Linked DNA regions of Homo sapiens: region 1 is linked to region 2. Evidence: fine-mapped expression QTL. Tissue or cell type: atrial appendage. Region 2 holds a variant in brackets; the other region holds the start of a gene. All regions are shown on one strand. Distances are between the middles of the regions.

The links. PIP is the estimated chance that this variant, and not a neighbour inherited with it, causes the effect.
Region 1: GGTA1 starts here. The variant in region 2 is fine-mapped to the expression of GGTA1 in atrial appendage (GTEx, PIP 0.97).

Annotation. Positions count from the first base shown.
Region 1 is chr9:121,498,555-121,501,456 of GRCh38, reverse strand. GGTA1 (glycoprotein alpha-galactosyltransferase 1 (inactive)) reads left to right here and starts at 1,613. Exons shown (of 6, transcript NM_001382585.1): 1 at 1,613-1,807. RefSeq lists a silencer at 1,564-1,663.
Region 2 is chr9:121,477,664-121,480,565 of GRCh38, reverse strand. The region is part of intron 1 of GGTA1 (glycoprotein alpha-galactosyltransferase 1 (inactive)); the gene reads left to right. Among named protein-coding and RNA genes, the nearest start is that of GGTA1, 21 kb to the left of the region's middle. The variant A/G (reference allele first, on the strand shown) is at 1,560.

The DNA.
Region 1 (2,902 bases), 21 kb before region 2:
TTAGTTAATTTATGAGCACTCTTTTATTTATATGCCAATTTGGTAGGCACAAGATATAACAGTAAGTGTACCTACAAATAAACACATCTAGACATGTATATACCGACACAAACAAAGATCCAATAGCTTGGAACTGTAGCCATGAGATAGCAATACAAGCTCGCTGGTTTTACTTTGTTTGCCCCAATAGATAATCCAATGAAGGCTGTGAACTAAAATTTTGGGTAAAGTAGTTTTCATGGCAGTTTGATTTTTTTGTTTGTTTGTTTGTCTATTCATTTAAGACTGAGTTTCGCTCTGTCACCCAGGCTGCAGTGCAGTGGCGCAATCTCGGCTCACTTCAACCTCCACCTCCTGGGTTCAAGTGATTCTCCTGCCTCAGGCTCCCAAGTAGCTGGGATTATAGGCGTGTGCCACCATGCCCAGCTAATTTTTTGTATTTTTAGTAGAGACAGGGTTTTACCATGTTGGCCAGGCTACTCTCGAACTCCCGACCTCAGGTAATCCACCCATCTTGGCCTCCCAAACTGCTGGGATTACAAGCTAGAACCACCTCGCCTGGCCTGGCAGTTTGATTTTTATTTGTATTTATTTTTTATTTTTTCTTTTCTTTCTCAGTCTCCAGCCTCCCGAGTAGCTGGGATTACAGGTGCACGCCACCAGGCCTGGGGAATTTTTCTATATTCTGTAGAGACGGGGTTTCGCCACGTTGCCCAAGCTGGTCTGGAAATCCTGAGCTCAAGCAATCCGCCCACCTCGGCCTCCCAAAGTGCTGGGATTACAGGCGTGAGCCACCGCGCCCGGCCGAATTATTTAAGAAGCGAATTTCTTAGTCTATGAAAATGACGTTCAACGGCAAATGGCAAAATGAAGTTCTGACTTTTCCACCTGTAAAGTAGATTGATATGAGCGGGAGTGAGAAGACCTTGTCGCTATCAGTATAAGACAAGAGAACTGAGGGCAGCCAGTTGTGGCCACAGCAACTCTCTGAGTGAATTGCTGCCACACTGGGCACAGAAGCGCACACTCTGAAATCGAATGTTTGGATTCCTTTCTACATAATTCTACTAAAGAGTTATTCCACAGCCTAGGGGCTGCCTTAGAGCCCCGTTTGAGACACTCTGGGCTCACAGATCATGAAGTCAGTGCGCAAACGCGGGCAGACCCTGAACCAGGTGCCCAACGCCCAGCCCTCACTTCCAGAGCTCAGGACTCTCGCAAGAGCGACTCCAGCCCCGGCCTGCCGCTGTCTACATTCGCGCTCTTCCTTCCTCGGGAAACAAACGGTGGATCAGATCTCCAAGGCTCTGAGTTTCCCAGAGTTTGGCCGTGCGCCAGCGCAGCGCAGCCCCTCCCAGCAGCACAGCACAGACCCCACCCCATCCTCCAACGCCCGGGGTTCCTGCTCTATCACCTACACCACCACCACCACGTGCAGGCCCGAGAAGGCAAAAGAGGCCCAGCCACTCTCACCGGGGATTTTATCCGCCTCCCCGGCACACACACACTCTCACTCACGCACTCGCTCGCCGGCCTTCCAGCTGTCTGTGTCCGGGGCGGGGACCGGCTTGGCGCAGCCCGCTGTCAGCGCTCGCCGGCTCCTCGCGCCCCTACCCGCTGCGCTCTGCCCAGAGCAGAAGCCCGGCCGGCCGGCCCACGGGCGGGAGGACGCGCCTCCGCTCGGGCGGAGGCGGCGCGGTGGCTGATCAGAGCGCGTAGGGCTTCGCCGGGGCCGGGAGCTGGGCGCGGTCCTGCTCAGCCCAGCTCACCGCGCGCCGGCCCTCGGCGCCCTGGTTCTGCGGATCAGGTGGGTCCCGCGGGGAGCCGCCCAGGTCCCCGGAGGCCACGAGCAGGACACGGACGGGGGGCTCCGCGCTTGGGAGAGGGTGGTGAGGGAGTGGAGGCGGGCCGCTGCTCCGGCGCTGCCCGGTGTCTGCCCTGCCTGTGTCCCTGCTTTTGTTCTTGTCGCTACCTCGGTGCCAAATCGGACCCAGTTTCTGTCCCTCTGTCCCCATCCTGTGGCCGTCCCTCCCTCTGTCCAGCCTTCCAAGACTGGAGCCTGAAGAGCTGCAAGCTGAGGTTCCCCCACGGGTCCGCGGGGTTGGGGTGGGGGAAGAGAGGGGAGACGCAGGGGACACAGGATGCGACCAAGTAAGTCGCAGTGAGTGAGGGGTCTGTCCTTGCCTGTGGGGCAGGACAGAGGAATGGCTCTTGCCCAGGACAAGATAGGAAGGGCGCGCCTCTGGGAAGGGGAATCTGGGAGTGGGGGGATAAAGTGAGGGTCGCAGGAACCCCAAGGAGGAAGGGAATAGAGAGGGAGATGTCAGAGAGCTTCGGAGAGCCGAGGACTCAGTCAGACGCCCAGCATGGGGAAAGTTTCCGACACTAACTTTGGCATCCGGGGTGCCTGCAGCACTGGGGCGATGGGAGGCGGGAGTTTCCTCCAACTCTTCAAACCTTGCTCCTACTCGAAAAGGACACCACCCCGCGTTTGGAAATGGCAGGAAAACGGCTAAACACAATGATTGCACAAACTCTTGAAGAAAGTAAAAAAAAAAAAAACAGTAAAAAGAAGAAGAAAAAAATGTCAGCGCGCAAAGAGCCAGAGAAGCAGAGGGATTTGAGATTCCTCGATCTTCCCGCTGTGGCGGCCGGGAGGGACTGGGAGGCGCGGAGGGTGTGAGAGCCGCTCCTCCGGCAGGAAGGAACCGAGACCCGAGGCAGGTGTTTTGAGGCTTTGCTCTTCCTTTGCACTCCTTCGGGCTCCTGAGCAGGCCGGGCTGCCTCCTTCCTTTACCTGGAAACAGGCGTGTCTGAGGAAGCAGGAGATGTAGGGTGCAGCCCTGGCCTGCCGCTTGCTGCCAGTAAGGAACCACCTTCCCAGACAGAGCCTCAGTTTCCC
Region 2 (2,902 bases):
GTCCCCTGTCTTTAGTCTGGGGTTTCCAGACTGTACTCCCTGGAGATGTCTCAGCCACGTGGGAGGATGAGGAAGGGGCTTTGAGCATCATTTCCCTGCTTTAGCCAAAGGACTCCGTGTGCTCTGTTTCAGGTCGTGGGGATTCTGAGAATGATTTTGTTTGCTTTTTGAAAAAGTTTTAGCTGTTTCGACATTGGAAAATCTACTGCCCACCGGGCATGGTGGCTCACACCTGTAATCCCAGCACTTTGGGAGGCTGAGGCGGGCGGATCACGAGGTCAAGAGATCGAGACCATCCTGGCCAACGTGGTGAAACCCTATCTCTACTAAAAATACAAAAAAATCAGCTGGGCGTGGTGGCATGTGCCTGTAGTCCCAGCTACTCGGGAGGCTGAGGCAGGAGAATCACTTGAACCCGGGAGGCGGAGCTTGCAGTGAGCCGAGATCACGCCACTGTACTCCGCCCTGGGCGACAGAGTGAGACTCCATCTCAAAAAAAAAAAAGAAAAGAAAAGAAAAAAAGAAAGAAAGAAAATCCACTGCCCCTAGGTCCCTTCCAGCTGCAAGATTCTATTTTGGGAGCAGGAGGTGGGTATGGGAAGGGTTAAGCATTATTCAGCCAGAGAGCGGAGTTGAGCCTTGGTGACCTTTTAAAGTTCTTGTAGTGTGCTTTGTGCTGTGGGAGATCCCGTAACATTCTATAAAAATGTAGTGTTCAAACCAAACAGCGACTTCTGAAGCCTAAAAGATGTAGAGGAAGGACTTAACTTTGAGGAACATTTAGGTAGAATTTCCACCAGTCTTGAGGACTCTCAAGATAGCCCTTTGTCCACTCCTCTGTGGTGTGTGTGTGTTTGTGTGTGTGTTTTAACGTCTCCATTGGCTGGTGGCTGGTCCTAGGAGCAGTCACTTGAAGTTGTTTGGGTCCAGAATGGTTTCCATTTTTATCCAGTAGTGTGTGATGTGGGCCCCCTTGGTGTCCCTCTCAAGGGTGGGTGGTGGCCTTTCCTCCTCCCATACTAGGCCCAGTTTGGACCATGGTTTTGCTTGGCAAGGAGGCTGGGCCGCTCATGGATCCAGAGAGGAACATTTCTGCCTTGGCACACAGCTCTGAGTCAACAGGCCTGATAAACAGCTCGTTTCCCAAAGGCCTGCAAGGAACAAAGCCCCTGGCTGCTGAGGGCTCTGTCTACTCCCCATCTCCTGAAACAGCTGTTTATTCTTTCGACAGGAGTTGAAACCAGCACCTTCCCTTTCTCTGAGTCCTGCCTCCTTCTGCAGAAGGGAGCTCAAAAGAACTTTGTTGTTTTGCCTTTTACTCTGGGGTGAAAGCGGCAGGAGGTATGTGAGATGGTGAAATGATTTGCTTCTGCCATGCTGGGGTCACGGGTGGATCGCCCTAAACTCTCGGTGGCCCCCTCAGTAGTTTTGGAAGAGGACCAAGTCCTTGTCTCTCCAGCAGTGGACCTGGAAGAAGGATGCCGGCTCAGGGACTTCACTGTAAGTTCAGCTTTATTTTGCTCCCCTGGTAGGACCTCACAGGGCTGCAGCCAAGCTGC[A/G]GCCTGGAGTTTTTCCTGAAGGATTTAAGTTGTTAATGCAGGAGCAGGGGGCAAGTCTTGGGGCTCAGGGTGAAGTTATGGATGGAGGCAGAGCCCTCTCAGAATTGTGTAGCATCTTTCATTTATCTTACTTTGGTTCTCTGGGAAAAACCCTTGCAGTGATTTCCAGACCAGGCAGCATGGAAAAGCTGGCTGGATTCAGCCTTTAGATTTCCCAAAGGGGATTCGAGAGAAAGCACTGTAAGATATACTTCAGAGAACAGGTCGTTCCATTTGAGATGGCTGGAGCGACAGTGGGCCATGTATTCAGTCTGAGACCTGTCTCTTATTTTCTTGTGTCTGTTTACTCTGACCCTTATAATGAAAAACAAAACTGGAGACAACCTTCCATGCACTTCCCCTGCTTCCCCGTGAATTGTATCGTGGAAGCATTTCCTTGTAAGACCCACCAGCTCACTGAGGTTTTAGGATAATAAGGCACTCTTCCTCCTTACACCCAGCACCATCCCTATGCCAAGGGCTGGGCCTGGGAGGCAGGCATTTTAAATCTGGCACCAAGACTTCTGGGCATGCCCAGTGATCTCTGGCAAGCTATGCCCCTTTGCTAAAGCTCAGTTTCCTCAGCTAAAAAAGCCACACTAAGGCCACCGCACTGACCATTGTGAGGAATAAACAAGATGCTGTGAGTGAGGACACCCCACAACACGCACACAGAAGGTGCCTGGAAATGCTAGGAGAGTTGAGCTGATGCTCACCAGCTGGTCCAAGGAAGAGCTGGCCCCACAGCAATTAACCCATGCAGAAGACTTCATGTTTTCTAGAGCAACAGAGTGGTTAAAAGAGAGGGCACTAGAGCCTGGCTCCCTGGATTTGAACCCCAACTCCACCACCTTATGCTATGTGACACTAGGCAAGTTACTTCACCTTTCTGAGCCTCTGTTTTCATATCTGTGAAATGGGGATAATAATAGAGTAACTTCACTGGGTTGTCATGGGGCTTAACTAAGAGACTCCTGAAAAGGGGTTTAGCCCAGGGTCTGGCCTGGCCTGGCTTGACTGGGGAAAATACAGGTGTTGCAGGGTTTGAAGCTGATTCCATTTGGGGAGCCCTCTTTAAGAAGAAGAATGGGCTGGCCGTGGTGGTTCATGCCTGTAAATCCCAGCACTTTGGGAGGCTGAGGCGAGCAGATCACGAGGTCAGGAAATCGAGACCATCATGGCCAACATGGTGAAACCCCGTCTCTACTAAAAATTAAAAAAAAAATTAGCTGGGCGTGGTGGCGGGTGCCTGTAGTCCCAGCTACTCGGGTGGCTGAGGCAGGAGAATGGCATGAACCTGGGAG